Linked DNA regions of Homo sapiens. The protein of the gene in region 1 purifies or fractionates together with the protein of each later gene. This does not show direct contact. Each region holds a gene or a part of one and is shown on either strand. Other genes may lie near its edges.

Evidence for each region.
Region 2: the proteins of ANKH (region 1) and RAP1A purify together in Homo sapiens (affinity purification with mass spectrometry; one large-scale study listed by BioGRID and IntAct). This does not show direct contact.

The regions. Positions count from the first base shown.
Region 1 is NC_000005.10:14,868,979-14,872,940, forward strand, and holds the start of ANKH (mineralization regulator ANKH), read right to left. Parts: upstream 2,801-3,962; 5' UTR 2,470-2,800; coding exon 2,374-2,469; intron 1-2,373. UniProt on the Homo sapiens protein: Transports adenosine triphosphate (ATP) and possibly other nucleoside triphosphates (NTPs) from cytosol to the extracellular space. Mainly regulates their levels locally in peripheral tissues while playing a minor systemic role.
Region 2 is NC_000001.11:111,692,789-111,696,288, forward strand, and holds part of RAP1A (ras-related protein Rap-1A precursor), read left to right. Parts: intron 1-2,552; coding exon 2,553-2,621; intron 2,622-3,500. UniProt on the Homo sapiens protein: Counteracts the mitogenic function of Ras, at least partly because it can interact with Ras GAPs and RAF in a competitive manner. Together with ITGB1BP1, regulates KRIT1 localization to microtubules and membranes.

The DNA.
Region 1 (3,962 bases):
GTAAATCGCTGACAAATAAGCCATCATTCACTCCCAGCAAGGTGTAATACACCTGCCCACTCAGCGGCAGTACCTACATGTGTCCATCTGTCTAGAACTCCATATAAACTCAAGGGCTGCATATTTTCAGCTAACGTAGACCCACTTTTGCAAACTGGTTCATTTCTCCTCCTCTTTACTGTGCTTCAGAAGAATTGGGGTAAAGTGTTCTTCTATTCATCACCCACACATACCAGGTCACTCTTCAGCTCCCACTGTAATTCTTTCCCTCCAGTTTAATGCTGAAAAGAGTAAGTCAGTCTCACTCTCTCTCACCCTGCAGCATTTTGCAAAAACAATTATCATCTGACACCAGAAGGCAAAGCAAGGTTTGGAAAACCTATCAATTTCTTCTCCCCATTTCTCCACCCTTAACTCTGTGATAAAATATCTCCGCCCTCCAGGCAGCCTATAACCTCATACTCTGGTGTTTTTGGGAAAAGGACCTCAAATGACACTTGTTGATAACATTTTGCTTCTCTGCAAAAACACAACTCCATTAAGTACTTTGCTTACATCAGCCATGATAATCAGGTTAGCAATGTTTTAAGGATGAGTTAGAATTATTAGACCTGCGAGGATAAACCATCTGGATAGTTGTCTCTTATGTTTAACCTCCCTTTTGTGACTTCAGGAGATTCTTTTTCTTATACTAAAATCAAACCTAGTTATGTCAGCCTTTCATTAAATCAAGGCAAAAGGGAGGCAATATTGTGGTATGCGTCAGGTGGTTTAATGATGACACAGACTACTCTTATTTCCACTAGTTATCTCGATATGATTCTTACATGCACACAAACACACACCAGTTCAGATGAGCAGCCTGGGCTTTCTGACAACCTTTGGGGCAGCTCCAAGAAGGTAAGCCTTAAAATAGGAAAGGCTCGAGTGAATATACAGCATTTGACTCATCTAAAATGGGCAATGTAGTAAATTCGTGTCTAAAAGCTTTTCTACGGATTGTAGGAAGTGTTCAAAGTCACCAGTTACTATAGAAAGAAGGGAAGGTGGGCGGGTACAGGGTGGAGCAGGGAAGAAGCCCTTGGGGTACCCTTGTGAGGCACTGGCAGGGCACAGTGGCAACGGAAGAGACAAGATTTTATCAAAGGACATTGGCTGGCGCGGTAAACAAAGGTCTCTAGAGAATATGCCATATTGTGAACACCTATCACCAACAAAATTCAAAGTAAAAAGTAGCTTACAATGTGGGCTACATATTAGAGAGCTTACAGAGTTGCAATTATTCAAAAGTTTTGAGCACAGAAAGACAAATCCAAACAGATATTCGTCAAACGAAGGAGTCACACAAATCTCCGATTTGTAACTGCCTCCTGAAAGCTGTTTTACTTTTACAATGAGTACTGCATCAAAATAGGTGCATATTCTAGATAAATATCCGTTTAAGTCTCTTGACTTAAAAGGAAAGAAGAAAGACAGTACCACAATACAGGAGTGCCGCTCGTCACACGCTCTGGCCACTTGGGACACCTGCCCATCAGGGTGGCATGTCACTGCCTCCCCATCACCAAATCCTCTCCCCGGCCTTAGAACGCAGCTGCATCCCGCTGGTGGCCCTGCCAAAACGGTCCCCACATGCAAAGTGCAGGGTGCCAATGCCCCATCGCTGGAGAGCTTGCAGCGCTAGATTTTCAATGACGCCACATGGAGAAAACGTGAAAAGAAACAAGGACGAGAAGGCGACCCCAAACAAAAATGTGCTCCCCTTCTTTAGTGGTCCATGAAAAAAAAAAAAGAAAGAAAGAAAGAAAGAAAAAAAAAGAAAAGGAAAAGGAAAAAAAAGAAATCCCAAACTAGAAATAAATGGTCAAGACCGGCTTATCAGGACACATTCGGGATACCCCTAATCCTTACCTGGACTACGAAACAAATGTTTAAAAATGGAAGTACCTGGGAAATCAACTTGGACGCATTATAAAACAGAATCTCCCCACCGTCACCATTACCACCAGCCATGGGTAAATAAAAACCCAGCACTTAAGCTACTAGAAACTACATTTTAATTAGAGCTGAGGTTTACATAATCGCAAATTACATAATACTGCCGTGCACTAAAAACCCTTCCATAGGTGAAGCTTCACACCATCCAGTCTTTTTAACATTTTCCAGAGAGGGCTGGAAAAGTCTGCTGAATAATTGAGGGGAGGGAGGGAGGGAATGGGGTGCTGGAAAAGTCACCCTTGACAAGCTGCACACCCGACCAAATGTTTCAGGATAAAGAGGGACTCGGAGCAGGTGACTCCCCTCCGCCCCCGTGTCCGGGCGTGTAAGGCCAAGGCAGGGCGAGCGGGCGTGGGGCGCGGGGCCGGGGCTTACCTGCTCCCCGAAGTCGATGGCTATGTTGGTGATGCCCAGGGGCACCAAGAACCGGATCAGGGGCCAGTAGTGCGTGAGCGCCGGGAATTTCACCATAGTCCCCGCCGTGGGCTGACCCCACACACATCTGCTGCCGCGAGGGGACTCTGCGGGGAGGCGAGGGGCGACGGGGCGACGGGGCGAGCGGGGCGCGGGCCGACAGAGGCCGCGGGCGGCGGGGCCTCGGGCGCGGCGGCGGCGGCTCCTCCTCGCGGCTGCGGCGCCTTCTCCGAGCGCGGCTGCTCTAGCAGGGGATCCGCAAGCTCAAGTCCATCCCTGCTGCCCTCCCACACAACAAAGATCTGCCGGGAAAAAAAAGAGGAGGGACGGCGGCGGCGGCGGCGGCGGCAGAAGGTTCTGCTGACAGCGGCTCCATTATAAGCGCTCTGGGGCCCGGAAATAAATAACCGCGCGCACGAGGCGCCGCCGCCGCCGCCGCCGCCCGGAGGAAATCAGGGGCGGGCGCGGAGGCGCGGACACCGCCAGCGGCCCCGGGGGCGGGCTGGGGAGGGGGCCGGGCCGGGCGCGCCGCGGCCTCCTTTCCTGTGCCGTCGCCTGCGCTTGGCGCGGCCGCGGGGGGCGCTGCGCACGCTCGGGCCGTGGGGCTGGCGCCTCCGGGGCGCTGGGCGGGACTCGCCGCGGAGCCTCGGCCGGCCCGGGGGCGGCGGCGCTGAGGGCGCGGCGGGGACGGTCTGGGGGCTTGGGGACGCCGGTGGGGGGTGAGGGCGGTGGGCCGCCTGGAGACCCCGGGGTGCCCTGGCTCGCCGGCCGGGCCCTGTAGCCCTCGTCCCGTGGGGCCGGGGGCCGGGGTTCCCGCGCTGTGCCGGGAGGGCCCGGCCGTCTGGAAGACTTGGCAGCCGGGGCAAGCGACGTGGGCTCGGACGCGCGAGGAGGGCTGGGGAGCGGGGCGCGGGGCTGGGAAGGGCGCCGTCCGGCGGTGGCCGGGCTGGCGGCGGGCGGGGACTGCGGAGGAGGCAGCTTGCGCCGGGGCTGGGGCCTGCTTCGGGGGACTAGCGGCCCGGGAGGTATGGAGGTGCCGCTCCGGGGGGGGCGAAAGAAACGTGGAAAGGTCGCCCAGGAGGGAGCCTGTCCCCCAGGGTTTCCAGGGGCAACGGTGGCCCGTGTCCCTGGAGGACATGCGCCAGGGCAGCAGGGAGTGGTCCCCGCAGGCTCCCAGGCTGGGGCCGGCCGCCTTCTGGGGCGCTCAGACCTGTCTGCTGCAGTTTGCAAACAGTACGCCCGAATTCTTTTCATTGTAAAAAATTTCTATTAAAAATAACTCGTAAAGCCTATCATCTCTTTTAAATAAAGGGGAAGAAAGAGGAAAGTGTGTTCTGTTTTGTAATACCGGGCCCCAGTGATTTCAGGGTAACTAGTCGCGGTGCTGAGAGTTTGACCTAAAGCTCGGCAGTGTGACAGCAACGCCAGCATCCCCGCACCCCAGGACTGTGACGCGAGGGAGGAGGACCCAGTGAATGAAAAGGGACTCTGGGCAGGGCTGGCTTCACGGGCGTGCGATCTGTGAAGTCACAGAGGGCCCGCACTTAAAA
Region 2 (3,500 bases), on another chromosome or scaffold:
GCTGAGGGTAGATACCTGTAAAATCATAGAGTATCTCTTCAAGGTTAAATAAGCTATGAATAACATCAGTTACTTTCTTGGGAGTAGGATTGGATAGCTGGGAACAAGGGTGGTAGATAAGCTTAGTTATCACTGCATAGCCTTTTGTGCCTTTTTGAATTTAGTCCTATGTCCATGAATTACCTTTTCAAAAATAATTTTGGAAAAAGTCCATAGGAGTGAAAGAGGTCTAGGGAGATACTAGAGAGAGAAGAGCAGAGCCCAGGACTGAGCTCTGAGTACCTCTCAACCTTTAGAAAGTAGATAGGATTGGAGGATCTAGCATAGAAGAAGGTGTCTTTACTTGATTCCTCAAAAGTCAAGTAAAAAAGAGGAAAGAGATGATCAGAGAGCATAGAGGCAGTTGGACATGATAAAGGAAGCAGCTTTAGTCAGGTCATGTTGCCATAACCATAATGGGGTGGGTTGAAGATTAAATGAGAGCTGAGGAAATGGAATATAGACATTTGAAGAAGCTTGATTATGAGAGGGGACAGAGAATGGGGGCAGAAGCTGGAGAGATATTGGGGTTAAGGGAGGTTTTTGTTTTTGTTTTAGAATTGGAGATAGTAAAGCATATTTGTATGCTGGGGGCAATTCCTCTCCACTGGAGAGGAAAATAAGGATACAGGAGAGGGAAAGAGGAGATGATCCAGTACAAAAACCTGAGGAATAAAATTATAATCTATGTGAATGAATGAATGAGATGTCCCTGAAAATTAAGACAGAGGATAAGATTCAGAGGAGTAGTCAAACATTACTTTTAGTAAGAAAGAAATGAGAAACGTTGGATTGTTTTGCATTTTTGCAAGTCTTATTAATGTCTGGCTTATAGAAGGCACATGGGCTCTTTTGCCTGCTTCTGTATCCAGTCTCTTTCAATAGCACATGTTCTATACCCTTTGGAAGATTCCACTGTAAACTTATGAGAGAAGAAGAAGAGTACCTCTTAGAATACATCTTAGTATTGTTAGGAAGATAGTTTGACCTTAGGGAGCCTCTGCCTTGGACCATATTTTGAGACTCTCTGCTCTAGCCTAAAGCATATTAGGAAGCTGTATTAGACTGCCTTTTTTTTTTTTTTAAATCTTGAATCAGCATCTTGCCCTGGAGTGCAGTGGCGTGATCATGGCTCACTGCATCTTCAACCTCCTACACTTAAGCAATCCTCCCACCTTAGCTACCCAAGTAGCTGGGACTACAGGTGCATGCCACCACACCTGGTTAAATTTTTAAATTTTTTGTAGAGACAGTCTCACTATGTTGCCCAGGTTGGTTTCAAATTCCTGAGCTCAAGCAATCCTCCTGCCTTGGCCTCCTAAAGTGCTAGGAGTACAGCATGAGCCACTGCATCCAGCGTAGACTGCTTTGTATATTTAAATTATGTGTCGTACTTAGAAGATGAGGTGATTAAATCCTTGATAAAAATCATGATTAAGGTTTTTGGTGTGATTATATCTTGAGTTGCCTTTGAATAATAGAAGCTTAGTAGGAGAAAGAAGTTTGTTTACTATATTTGAGTTAATCTCTTTAGCTCAAGCTAAAATAGTATATCAAATATTCCTCTGAGTAATTTAAGTGTAGATGACCTCAGTCCACATTCTTACCCTTGCTTTTTAGGCAATAATGTACCAGACCCTGTTTTAAAGTTACCTAGGAAATATCTTAAAACCGTCTTCTGTACTTTTTTCACTTACTGAATGATAAATACGTATTTTCTAGTATGTGCTTTTGGATGCCTTTAAAAGTTGATAATATCTGAAAAAGATGAATGGGCAATATTTTCCAATGGAAAAAGTAAGGCTTTGGAATCAGGAAGATGTATGTTTGAATCTCAGCTGGCAAATAGGAAGAATAACTATTTCTGGGACAAATGTGAAATTTGAATGTGGTTATAAATTAAAAGTGACTAGCTTAATGTCTGGAACATAATAGACATTCAGTAAGTTTAAATTTCCCTTTCTCTTTTCCACCACAATTTAGAAAGGCTTTAACAAATTTACAAGATGCTGCTTGAGGTCCAGCTACCTGGGAGGCTGAGGCGGGAGGATCTCTTGAGTTCAGGAGTTCAAGGCCAGCCCAGGCAACATAGCAAAGACCCTGTGTTTAAAAAAAAATTAGAACCTTTGTCACTCCATTAAGGGCAGAGGGCATGGGATAAAAGTTACTATAGATATATAAAGGGGCAATAGGAGTTTAAATATTGATAATTTTTCATGTTTTAATTAGTTCAGATATGTTATTTGTATCCTTGTATATTAAGACTTAATGTAATTAACAGTGTATTATCAGTATTGATGACAGTTTTTAACATGACTACCTCCTTTCATAATAAATGTACTCTTAGTTATGGATGTATCCTTATATTGAAAGAATTAATAATATACTTTACATTTACGTGTTTACCCAGAATTTTCACATAATTTCAATTAATCATTATAATTTGTAGGTTAAGTAACATTCAAAGGAGTTTTCCTTTAATTTTTTAATATTTCTCTTTTTTTTTCCCCCAGACAGTTCAGTTTGTTCAGGGAATTTTTGTTGAAAAATATGACCCAACGATAGAAGATTCCTACAGAAAGGTAAAATGTGAAACTTGTACACACATGCTTACAAGTAGTTCCTTATGATGTTAAAATTTGATCTGTAGATTTGCTTTTTGAAAATAGTTTTGAGAAATAATACAAATATTGTGCATCTGTTTTTAAAAGTTTCATCAAGACAGAACATTTCTTAACAGAATACTACTTTGATATTCAGAGCTCTATGTTCTGTTACTGATTAGTGACTTGTTCCTTAATGTGGACATTTTCCTGGTGGGGAATGTTGCCACATATGAAAAAATTGCATATAAATAGTAGGTGTGTTTTCAACTTACTCTTTTGTTACCAACAATTAAGACCACCTTTATGCTTGAAGTTATCCAGTGACTGAACATTTTTATTTTTGTTTAGTTTTATAAGTTTAAAGATATCTTTAGACTACCAAAAAATTAGAGTCTGTGTAATACTATAATTGGGTTATATGCCATACATTTGTCAAAACCCATAGAATGTACCATGCCAAAAGAAAATCCTAATGTAAACTGTGGACTCTTGGTGATAACGATGTGTTCATGTGGGTTCATCAGTTGTAACAAATGTACCACTCTGGTGCAGGATGTTGATGGTGGGGTGAGGCTATGCATTTGTGGTGGCAAGGAGTATGTGGGAAATCTCTGCACCTTCCCCTCAGTTTTGCTGTGAAACTAAAACTGCTCTAATAAAGTCTATTTAAAAGGGAAAAAAAATTAGGTACTTGGTCTTGACAAAAAATATTCTGTAGAAGACCAGCCAGAGTTGTGGAAAATTTTCAGTATTTTCTATGTCAAATATATTGGGTGGGGTGGAGGTTATAAAAGGCTAGTAGCCAAGAATATTTTTTAAAAAGATTAAACTTTAATAGGAAAGGATTGCTTTTGA